2 separate regions of the Homo sapiens genome follow, and region 1 is linked to region 2. Evidence: fine-mapped expression QTL. A gene starts in region 2. The other region holds a variant in brackets. All regions are shown on one strand. Distances are between the middles of the regions. Region 1 has its middle 16 kb from the start of LINC02175. Region 2 holds the start of LCMT1-AS1 (LCMT1 antisense RNA 1).

Region 1 (5,380 bases), 28 kb before region 2:
TAAAGTCCTAAGCCCGTCATTGACTGAACAGACCCATTTGTGACCAAGGGAACCCCAGTTGCCAGGAGACAAATCTTACTTGGGGAAAAGTCTTGCCCCTTGCCCTGCTGAAGATATGAATACCCCAGAAATGGGTTGGCTCTTAGCCCCTTTGAAATACTGTACAGGAGACCATTTCTCCAGATTCCCTGATACTTGAGGATTTTTCCTCTCCAGAAAGAGAAGCTAGTTCTTATATAAAATCATTAGGAAGTATGTTAACTAGTCTCTGAGTTTGCTTCTAACAGGTTCCAATTCCTTGTGCCTCTTTATTCTTTGAAACTGGGGAACCAGGTCATGCTGAAGACCTGGCAGTCCCACCAGGCTCAAGACCAGCTGCAAGCACAATGGGTCAGCTCCTTTGCGGTGCTGCTGACCACCCACCCATCCGTCAAGTTTGCCAGTGTTACCCATGGACTCACCGTACTGGAGTAAAACTAGTCCCTCTTGGATCCCTCTAGAGGAAACACTCATGGTTGTGTGAACCCTTCTACGGCCTTAAGTTAGTATTCAAAGCCCAGCCAAAGACCTGAAATAAGAAACCATACAGAGAACACAGAACTCTGAGTCTTCTCTTGGATTTCCCAAGGGATCCACTCCATATTCTGTGGTATTTTTAAAATTTTTATTATCTATGTTATTTTTTATTTTTAGTTTTTGAGATGGAGCCTTGCTCCCATTACACAGGCTGGAGTGCAGTGGCGTGATGTCGGCTCACTGCAACCTCCACCTCCCGGGTTCAAGCGATTCTCCTTCCTCAGCCTCCCGAGTAGCTGGGATTACAGGCGTGTGCCACCACACTGGCTATTATTATTATTATTATTATTTTTTTTTTTTTTTGAGACATAGTCTTGCTCTGTTGCCAGGCTGGAGTGCAGTGGCGTGATCTTGGCTTACTACAACCTCCACCTCCTGGATTCAAGCAATTCTCCTGCCTCAGCCTCCCGAGTAGCTGGGACTACAGGCACATGCCACCATGCCCAGCTAATTTTTGTATTTTTAGTAGAGATGGAGTTTCACCATGTTGGCCAGGATGGTCTCGATCTCTTGACCTTGTGATCCACCCACCTCGGCCTCCCAAAGTGCTAGGATTACAGGTGTGAGCCACCGCATCCGGATGTTATCTATGTTATTAATCATCTTAGCATGGCTTGAAATGTTGCTCTAAAACCAAGATAAAAGGACCCATATTACCATGTTCCATCAAGCTGGATGCCAGCCAGGCACTTGTGAGTACTTCAGCTATAGGCATGACGTTTTCGTTCTTCGTCATTATCCCACAATGCCCCTTCTCAGCGTGAAGCAGTCAGAAAGATTGAGGACCAGATTCTCTGTGACTGGAGAAAGGATAAATGGCTAGAGAGTCAGTTTTGAGCTCTGCAGATCACACGGCGGTATCTATCACAACAACTCAACTCTGCTGTTGTAGCCTGAAAGCCGCCATAGATAGCACATAAACACAGGAGCCTGGCTGTGTTCCAATAAAACTTTCATGTACACTGAAATTTGAATTTCATATAATTTTCACGTGTTACCGAATATTATTATTCTTTTGGGGTTTTTTCTAGTCATTTAAAAATAACCACTCTTCTGAGCTTTCTGGCCATAAAAAATGGGCAGTGAGCTGGATTGAGCCTTCAGGTGTAGTCTGCTCCCTGGTTTAAATAAACTAAGTCTAGGGGTGGCTAGTCAAGCCCTCTGGGTTTGAATCCCACAATCCCACTTATTAGTGCTGGGGTCCTGGGCAAGTTACCTCTTGGAGTTTCACTTTCCTTATATGTAAAATGGGAGTAATAGTGGATCCTATCCGATTTGCCTGGTTTGAGAATTAGAATAGATGTAGGTGTCAACCCAGTGAGTGTCTGGGGCATAGAAAGCACCTAGCAAATATGGCTGCTACTGTTGGCTATTATGAAGGCTCAAGTAGATCCCTACAGCCTTGGAGGAACCGTTTGTGATGTGGAGGTTTGACGGTCTTGAGCTGTCTTCAGTCCACAGTTCAGTTAGATTGAATATGAGGCTGGAGGGTTTGGTGGTGCTGCCTTGCTTTCGTGCAGTTAAGTAGAACATGGTATATCCACAGAATGGCTTACT[C/G]TGCAGCCATAAAAAGGAGGTAGAGGTGTATATTTGTGTTCTGACCTGTAAAGATGCTCCACATATCTGTCTAAATGTGTACAGGTATGTGTGTATAATGCATGTACGTGTGGATATGTGTCATGTGTGCATATGTCCTTTGAAATCAGGGCTGTTCAGCCTTGGGTTGACATTTGGATCTAGAGTAGGCAGAAAAATGCTCTCCCCTCCCCAGTAATGTCCATTTCTGAATCTCCAGAACCTGTGAATGTGTTAGATTACATAGCAAAGGGGAATTAAGGTTGGAGATGGAATGAAAGTTGCTAATCAGCATAAAGGGAGATTAGCGTGGATTATCCCCACAGGCCCAGTGTAATCACAGAGGTCCTTCATAGTTGCCCAGGAAGTCCGTGAAGACACAACTTTGGAAGAAAGGCACAGCATAAATGCTGCTGGCTTTGACAAATGCAGGAAGAGGCCAAGGAACATGGGCAGACCCAAGAAGCTGGAAAAGGTGAGGAGGCAGATGCTCCCCTCACGTGTCCAGGAAGGCATTCATCAGCCCTGCTGCCACCTTGATTGTAGTGCAGGCAGATCTGGTTCGAACTTCTGATCTCCGGAAATGTGAGATAATCCATTTGTATTCTTCAAGCCATTAACTTTGTGGTGATTTGTTACAGCAACAACAGGAAACGAATCCCTTTGGAATGGGAATTGCTGTCCTATGCCTGACCCACCATCATATTTTGGAAGCACATTAATTTCCCAGGCCCATGGCGGAGAGGAATCTGCCTTAGGAGAAATCTTGCCCAAAGTCTCACCTGTATCTGATTCAAATGAGACTCTGGACTCTTGACTTGGTGCTGGAACAAATGAAAACATTAAACCTGTTGGGATGGAATGAATGTACTCTGCATGTGAGAGGACATGAATTTGGGGGGCTGGGGCAGAATGCTATGGTTTGACTGTGTTCCCCAAAGTTCATGTGTTGGAAACTTCATTCCCCATCCAGCAGTGTTGAGGGGGCGGATTTTTAAGAGGGGATGGGTCACGGGGCCCTGCCCTCATGAAAGCGTTAGTTATCGCAGGAGGGGTTCCTGATAAAAGAATAAGTACAGGCCCCTTCCCCCCTCTTCCTCTCCTGCAGGCAAGCATGCCCTCTTGCCCGTCCACCTTCCACCATGGGATGATGCAGCAAGAAGGCCCTCACCAGATGTGGGCCCCTTGACCTTGGACTTCCCAGCGTTGAGAACTGTAAGAATAAATCTTTGTTCTTTAGAAATTACCCAGTCTCAGATATTCTGTTACAGCAGCACAAAACAAAGTGAGACAGAGGGTGTAGGGCAGGAAATTTCCTCACCCAATTCAGTGAAACTGTAAATTGGTAAAAAAAGGACTTGAAAAGCCTGGCAGTGGCTATTCATAATGTGCAAACTCTGCACTAGCGATTCCTGCAAACATGCACATATACTTGTATTTGCTATAACACTGTTTAATATAAAAACATAGGCTGGGCACAGTGGCTCACACCTGTAATCCCGGCACTTTGGGAAGCTGAGGTGGGCAGACTGCTTGAGCTCAGTTCAAGACCAGCCTGGGCAACTTAAGCCCAGGAGTCTGAGGCTGCAGTGAGCTGTGATCGAGTCTCTGTACTCCAGCCTGGGCAACAGAGTGAGACCCTGTTTCAAAAGAAAACAAAACAAAACAAAAAATAAAAAGGCAAAAATCTAAGTGATTATCAGTAGGGAACAGATTAAATGGAGGGGAATTTCCCCTCTATTAAGATTAAATAGATTAAATAGAGGGGAATTTCCACAAAGGAGTACAATAAAGCAATTATAAATAACGATGCAGATCTGTATATGCTGACATGAAAAGAGCAAGTTACAAAACATGTATGTTATTCACTATTAAAATTACATAAATGTTTATATTTATAAACAAGTGGTAGAGACTCATTCATTCAACAGAAATATACTGAACTACAGGATATAGCTGTTCAGTGTGTATGTACATTTGTTCAACAGAAATATGTTGAACCAAAAAAAAAAGAAAAGAAAGAGGAGGAGATGAGTCCATGTACTCCTCAGTTTACTCATGAGCTCATTTACTGCACAAATGCAGACACTCACTACAAAAATGGCAAATATATATTTGCTACTGTTCAAAGCAAGAGCCCCTCTAAAAAGGCCTTCACTAGCTACTGGGAAGGCTACATTTGAGGCTACAATGAGCTATTAACCTGCCACTGCACTCCAGCTTGCGTAACGGGAGACCTTATTTACAAAAAAAAAAAAAAAAAAAGAAGTAAATAAACAAGACTTTAATTACATTCGGCCCTAAGCACATACAGTAAAAATTCAGTGGATGCAGGTCTCAGGTGAGGTCAGCGAAGCATTATGCTCAGCATTTGATGTCCAAATCACAAACGGATCATGAAATACTTACATGTAGAAATAACTAAGACTTGGCTGGGCGCAGTGTCTCATGCCTGTAATCCCAGCACTTTGGGAGGCCAAGGGTGGGTGGATCACGAGGTCAGGAGTTCAAGACCAGCCTGAACAATATGGTGAAACCCTGTCTCTACTAAAAAGTACAAAAATTAGCCGGGCTTGGTGGCACACGCCTGTAATCCCAGCTACTTGGGAGGCTGAGACAGGAGAATCGATTGAACCTGGGAGGCAGAGGTTGCAGTGAGCTGAGATTGCGCCATTGCACTCCAGCCTGGGCAAAAAGCGCAAAACTCCGTCTCAAAAAAATAAATAAAAAGCATATTTAATATAAAATATAGCTTTATATTGGGAAAGGCTGAAAAACTTAATTTCATAAGACAAACTAGAAAAAATAAAGCTTGACGAATATTTCCCATTTGTAAGTATTAGTCTTCTCTACAGGACAAGCTGAAACACATATTAATTTTTTAAAAGAATTAAGATTTTATTTACATGATTGATTAAAAGGGGTATGGGAATGTAGTTAAAACTAGTAAGAAGCCTTGAACTTGGGCTTAAAGTCACAGTTTAAATCTCAGCTCCACTCTTTCCTAGCGAGGTGACCTTGGGCACATTATCTTCTTTGAGCCTCAGTTTCCTCATCTGCAAAAACGTGATAATAACAGCACTTAATTCACGAGTCCGCTGTGAGGACTGAATGAAACAACCCAAGCAAACCACTTAACATGCTACTAGGCACGAACACTCAGCACACATTAGCAAACTTGTCATCTGCAACTTTGCAAACTCCTTGAATACCGGACTCGGAATGGCCC
Region 2 (5,327 bases):
TTTCTTTTTCTTTTTTTCGAGACAGACTTTCGCTCTTGTTGCCTAGGTTGGAGTGCAGTGGCACGATCTCGGCTCACTGCAACCTCTGCCTCCTGGGTTTAAGCGATTCTTCTGCCTCAGCCTCCTGAGTAGCTGGGACTACAGGCGCGCACCACCATGCCCAGCCATTTTTTGTGTTTTTAGTAGAGATGGAGTTTCACCATGTTGGCCAGGCTGGTCTTGAACTCCTGACCTCATGATCCACCCGCCTCGGCCTCCCAAATCCCGCCTCGGTGACTGGGATTACAGGTGTGAGCCACCACGCCTGGCCAGGAGAGAAGCTTAGTTTTCCATAAGAAGCTGTAGCTTTTTTTTTTTTTTTTTGGAGACAGTTTCGCTCTTGTTGCCCAGGCTGGAGTACAATAGCGCAATCTCGGCTCACCACAACCCCTGCCTTCAGGGTTCAGGCAATTCTCCTGCCTCAGCCTCCGGAGTAGCTGGGATTACAGGCATGCGCCATCATGCCTGGCTAATTTTTATTTTTAGTAGAGATGGGGTTTCACCATGTTGGTCAGGCTGGTCTCGAACTTCTGACCTCAGGTGATCCACTTGCCCCGGCCTCCCAAAGTACTGGGATTACAGGCATGAGCCACCATGCCAGCTTTTTGTTTGTTTTTTGAGACGGAGTTTTGCTCTTGTCCCCTAAGCTGGAGTTCAATGGCACGATCTCAGCTCACTGCAACCTCCACCTCCCGGGTTCAAGTGATTCTCCTGCCTCAACCTCCCTAGTAGCTGAGATTATAGGCGCCTGCCACCATGCCTGGCTAATTTTTGTATTTTTAGTAGAGACGAGGTTTCACCATGTTGGCCAGGCTGATCTCAAACTCTTGACCTCAGGTGATCCACCCACCTCGGACTCCCAAAGTGCTGGGATTACAGGTGTGAGCCACCGCGCCCAGCCCACTCTAGCTATTTTTTATAGAAGAAAGAGATACTGGAGAGCCAAAGCAACAATTGTCCATTGTAGCCTTTTGGGGAGAGATTCCATGGTGAATGCCTAACTTTTGGCCCACAATATTAATGTCCAAGAGCTTTTACACTTCCACAACTCTTCTCCTGACTTTGTCAAAAGATGCAGTCTAGTTGGCAGTGAACTTTCTCTGGCTGGGATATGGCTCAAAGACTACCCCAGCATTGTCTCTTGCATTAAGGTATCATTTAGCCTGAGATGGCTAAGCTTGCAATCTCCAGACTCCACGCTGTCATAAACTTTCAGATCCTCAACCAGGAACTTACATGGAATGAGCTGGCCCTGGAGGTCAGCTGGAAGATGGCCAAATTCCTCTGAATCACCAGCTATTTTGAATCAAAGGCTCATCCAACAACAAAAGTGTATAAACCCATCTGCCTCCGCCTTCTTCCAGTCACCCCCAGTCTCACTGTCCAGACCTGTGGGATTAACACCGTATAGTACTTGCTGTTAACACTTACTATCCACTAACACCCGTGGAATGTGGACACTGCTAAGCTGGGAGATGATGCTTGTGCAATAGTTTGTATTACCCTTTTGGCAAAGGACCACTCCAAGAAAATGGTGTATTTCATCCCATCAGCATTCCCCCTGGCAAAGCTCTCCACCCTTAGTCATTCCCCTCTTGTCATTTCTACTGTGGCTATCAATGAGATCTTGTGCCTCCATTAGAATACTGAGCTAGCATTTGATATTTGACCTCACTCCAAGGTGTGTATTCTGGGTTTCTGTTGTTGATTTTCTTTTTAAAAAAATGAGTGCAATTCAAAGTTCTTAAAGTATATCTGTTTCCTGCTTCCAACAACTGACAGATAACAAAATGGAATATACAAAGACATTTTTAATTTATAATGTATATTAAACATTATTATACATATACAACTTACAAGGGTTGCTTCTGGCTGGATTCTCTGCCAATCGCCCGAACACTGAGGATTCTGCTAGTTGTTCTGCCCTGAGTTAATTATAGCTATAAAATTTCATCACCAGCAAGAAACCAGGCGACTTCCCCAGTACATCTTGAATTTATACATATATTTTGTACTAGATTTAGTACAAAATAAATCCAAAACATCTTGAATATGCCTCATAATGAAACAGACACACGTGAACCCACTCCCACGTGAGAAACTGAGGATGTGTCTATGTGCTCCTTCCCTGCCTCTCCCTCCCCCTCTTGTGTGCTACCCTCCCGGCTCCCTAAAGATCACCAATATCCTGATTCTTTTTTATTTTTTTTTCTCATGTCTTGCCTTCTCTGTACAGTATTTTACCATATATGTACGTTTCTCTAAACAACATTAGTTTTACTTGGTTTGAACTTTACAAAAGTGTTGTTAGACTTCCTTCTTTCACTGAACATCGTGTTTCTGAGATTCAGCCATTGATGCTGCTACCTGGTAGCTCTAGTTCATTTATGATCGCTGCTACATGGCTTCCTATTGTATTACTTTTCCACACACTACTTCCCTCACTACATTTCTTTTCTTTCTTTCTTTTATTTATTTGTTTATTTATTTTTTTGAGACGGAGTCTCGCTCTGTCGCTCAGGACGGAATGCAGTGGCGCCACATGGGCTTACTGCAACCTCCGCCTCCCGGGTTCAAGCGATTCTCCTGCCTCAGCCTCCTGAGTAGCCAGGACTAAGGCGGCCGCCACCACGCCCGGCTAATTTTTGTACTTTTAGTAACAACGGTGTTTCACCATGTTGGCCAGGCTGGTCTCGAACTCCTGACCTCAGGTGATCGGCCCGCCTCGGCTTCCCACAGTGGTGGGATTACAGGAGTGAGCCACTACGCCCGCCCCCCTCACTACATTTCGAAGGCAATTTTGGGGGCAAAGCCCTCAGCACAGTCGCTGGCAGAGTCAGCACACAACAAAATTTTGTAAAATTGAATGACACTGAGCCCGGACTGAATGTAACAACTTACACATGTTGCTTCTGGCTGGATTCTCTGCCCTTTGCCCGAACGCTGAGGATTCTGCTAGCTGTTCCGCCCTGAGTTAATTATAGCTATAAAATTTCGCGACCAGCAAGCAGAAACCGGGCGACTTCTCCAGACACCTAAGACTACGCTTCCCAGAAAGGATTGCGATACTCTCCTACTGTTTAGTTTCTTTTTCCTATCGTCAAATTTCCGGGTTATGTGGGCGGTGCCAAAATAATTATCCAATGAGCAACTTCGTAGGCTGAGCGGGCAGGAGAATTGCTCAATGAGCGACTCGGAAGAGGAGCCAATAAGCGGAGAGGTTGCTGGGGTAGCCGGCGTGGGCGGCGTCACTGAGCCGCGCCAGCTGAGCCAGGTAGGGCCCTACCCTCTTCTGTTGCTTTCTCCCTGTGGCTCGCGCCGTCCCCCGCCGCCCGTCGACCCCGCTTCCATGTCCCTGGCGGACACAGCTCCCAGGAACCTCCACGCCCATGGCCACTAGGCAGAGGGAATCCTCTATCACCTCCTGCTGTTCCACCTCGAGCTGCGACGCAGACGACGAGGGCGTGCGCGGCACCTGCGAAGATGCTTCCCTGTGCAAGAGGTGCCTGTCGGGCGCGGGGTTCGGGGCCGGCATCTGGGGCGCGGGCCTAGGTGGGAGGTGGGCCTGCATCTGAAGAATACGCTCAAGGCTGGCAGGGATGCAGCCCCCGCCTCGCACGACCCTCGCTTCCCACCTGTGAAGTGCACGGAGCAGGGCTTCATTTATTTAACGAATCGTTTCTGAGCTTTTGCTGTGAGCCAGGCAGGGGGCCAGCCTGGGTATCGTCGATGGGAGCAGGCCCCTGAGCCAGACAGACGAGGCCTTGGGCTTCTTGGAGCTAAACGCTGCTGGAAAGACAGACATGAAGCAAATAGTAGCTCCAGCCTCGATGGGTTACGAGGATGAGAGGTGTAGGTTCTCTCTCTTTTGTAGGTTGCATTCTTTAGGGGGTTGGTGTGATCCCTGTTGTGCACCTGAAACTCAGGATGACGAGGGGAAATAACCCACCCAGAGCCAAGTAATATCTCTTTGCAGAGCCAGTACCGCACTAAGTCTCCACTGTTAAGGGTGTGGTGGTGGGGATGGGGGCGTAGCCAGCAGAGGTACGTGTCAGAGAAAGAGAAAGCTTGAGGCTTGAATGTCCACCATTTATTCTTTCATTCAACAAAATTTTTTGAGACCTTACTTTGTGCCAGGCCTTTACTTTGCAGTGGTTAGTAGGAATTCGATGGTGGAAATACACCAAGAACAAGACAGACATGGTGTCAGACATACTGGAACTCACAGCTTTGTTGGAAAAGAGAGACAGGAAGCAAATAATTACCTATGAAATATATAATTATGATTTTTTTGTGTTGAGTGCTGACAAATACGGCAGTGCCATTAGAGTTTGTAATTTTGTCAGTGATGTTTAAGGTGAGAAGAGTTTGGGCGCGGTGGTTCACGCCTGTAATCCCAGCACTTTGGGAGGCCGAGGTGGGCAGATCACGAGGTCAGGAGTTCGAGACCATCCTGGCCAACATGGTGAAACCCCATCTCTACTAAAAATACAAATATTAGCTGGGTGTGGTGGCGGGCGCCTGTAATCCCAGCTACTCGGGAGGCTGAGGCCGGAGAATCATTTGAACCCGGGAGGCAGAGGTTGCAGTGAGCCAAGATCACGCTATTGCACTCCAACCTGGATGAGAGTGCGAGACTATGTCTCAAAAAAAAAAAAAAAAAAAAGTGAGAAGAAAAGGCTTGAAAAATAGGAAAGTTGTAGGAGAGTGTTCAGAGGAGTGTGAACTGTTAGAGGAACTCAAAAAATGCTTTAAAGGTGGGAGAAGGAGGCTGAGGCCACGTAGTGATTGTAGAGTGGGGAAAACCAGTGTGTTGGATTAAACCTTGCACTTTTTATAGGTTCTTGGGGACTAAACTTTCAGAGCATGGATTCTGGAGCTAGACTCTGTCAAACTGAGCGTTGCCACTTACTGGCAGTATAAAGTCGGGGAAATTACTAAACTTTTCTGTGGCTCAGTTTCCTGATCTGTAAAATGGGGAGTATAATAACGCATCATAGGTGGGTGTGGACAAAAATGATATTTAATATTAGTAGAGCACTTGGAGCAGTGTCTGGCATGTAGTCCATGTAAGTGGTGATTGATTAAATTAATAAATACACAAGTATTAAAGTCTTAGAGAGAGTCCCTTATGAAATTTGTGAATTTGAGTGGATTATACTCAGCTTTTTCTTCTGTGGCTTTCAGTTGCTATTGGCCACAGCTGTCTTGGCTCCTGGTAACTTCCACCTGCCGGGTTCAAGTGATTCTCCTGCCTCAACCTTCCAAGTAGCTGGGATCACAGGCAC

Evidence for each region.
Region 1: its variant is fine-mapped to the expression of LCMT1-AS1 in whole blood (TOPMed, PIP 0.93).

The regions. Positions count from the first base shown.
Region 1 is chr16:25,080,566-25,085,945 of GRCh38, forward strand. No RefSeq gene overlaps it. Among named protein-coding and RNA genes, the nearest start is that of LINC02175, 16 kb to the left of the region's middle. The variant C/G (reference allele first, on the strand shown) is at 2,134.
Region 2 is chr16:25,108,456-25,113,782 of GRCh38, forward strand. LCMT1-AS1 (LCMT1 antisense RNA 1) reads right to left here and starts at 3,100. Exons shown (of 3, transcript NR_120306.1): 1 at 2,941-3,100. It overlaps LCMT1 (leucine carboxyl methyltransferase 1), which reads left to right and starts at 3,287. Exons shown (of 11, transcript NM_016309.3): 1 at 3,287-3,541. The coding sequence starts at 3,429. RefSeq lists enhancers at 2,710-3,237, 3,015-3,344, 3,435-3,594.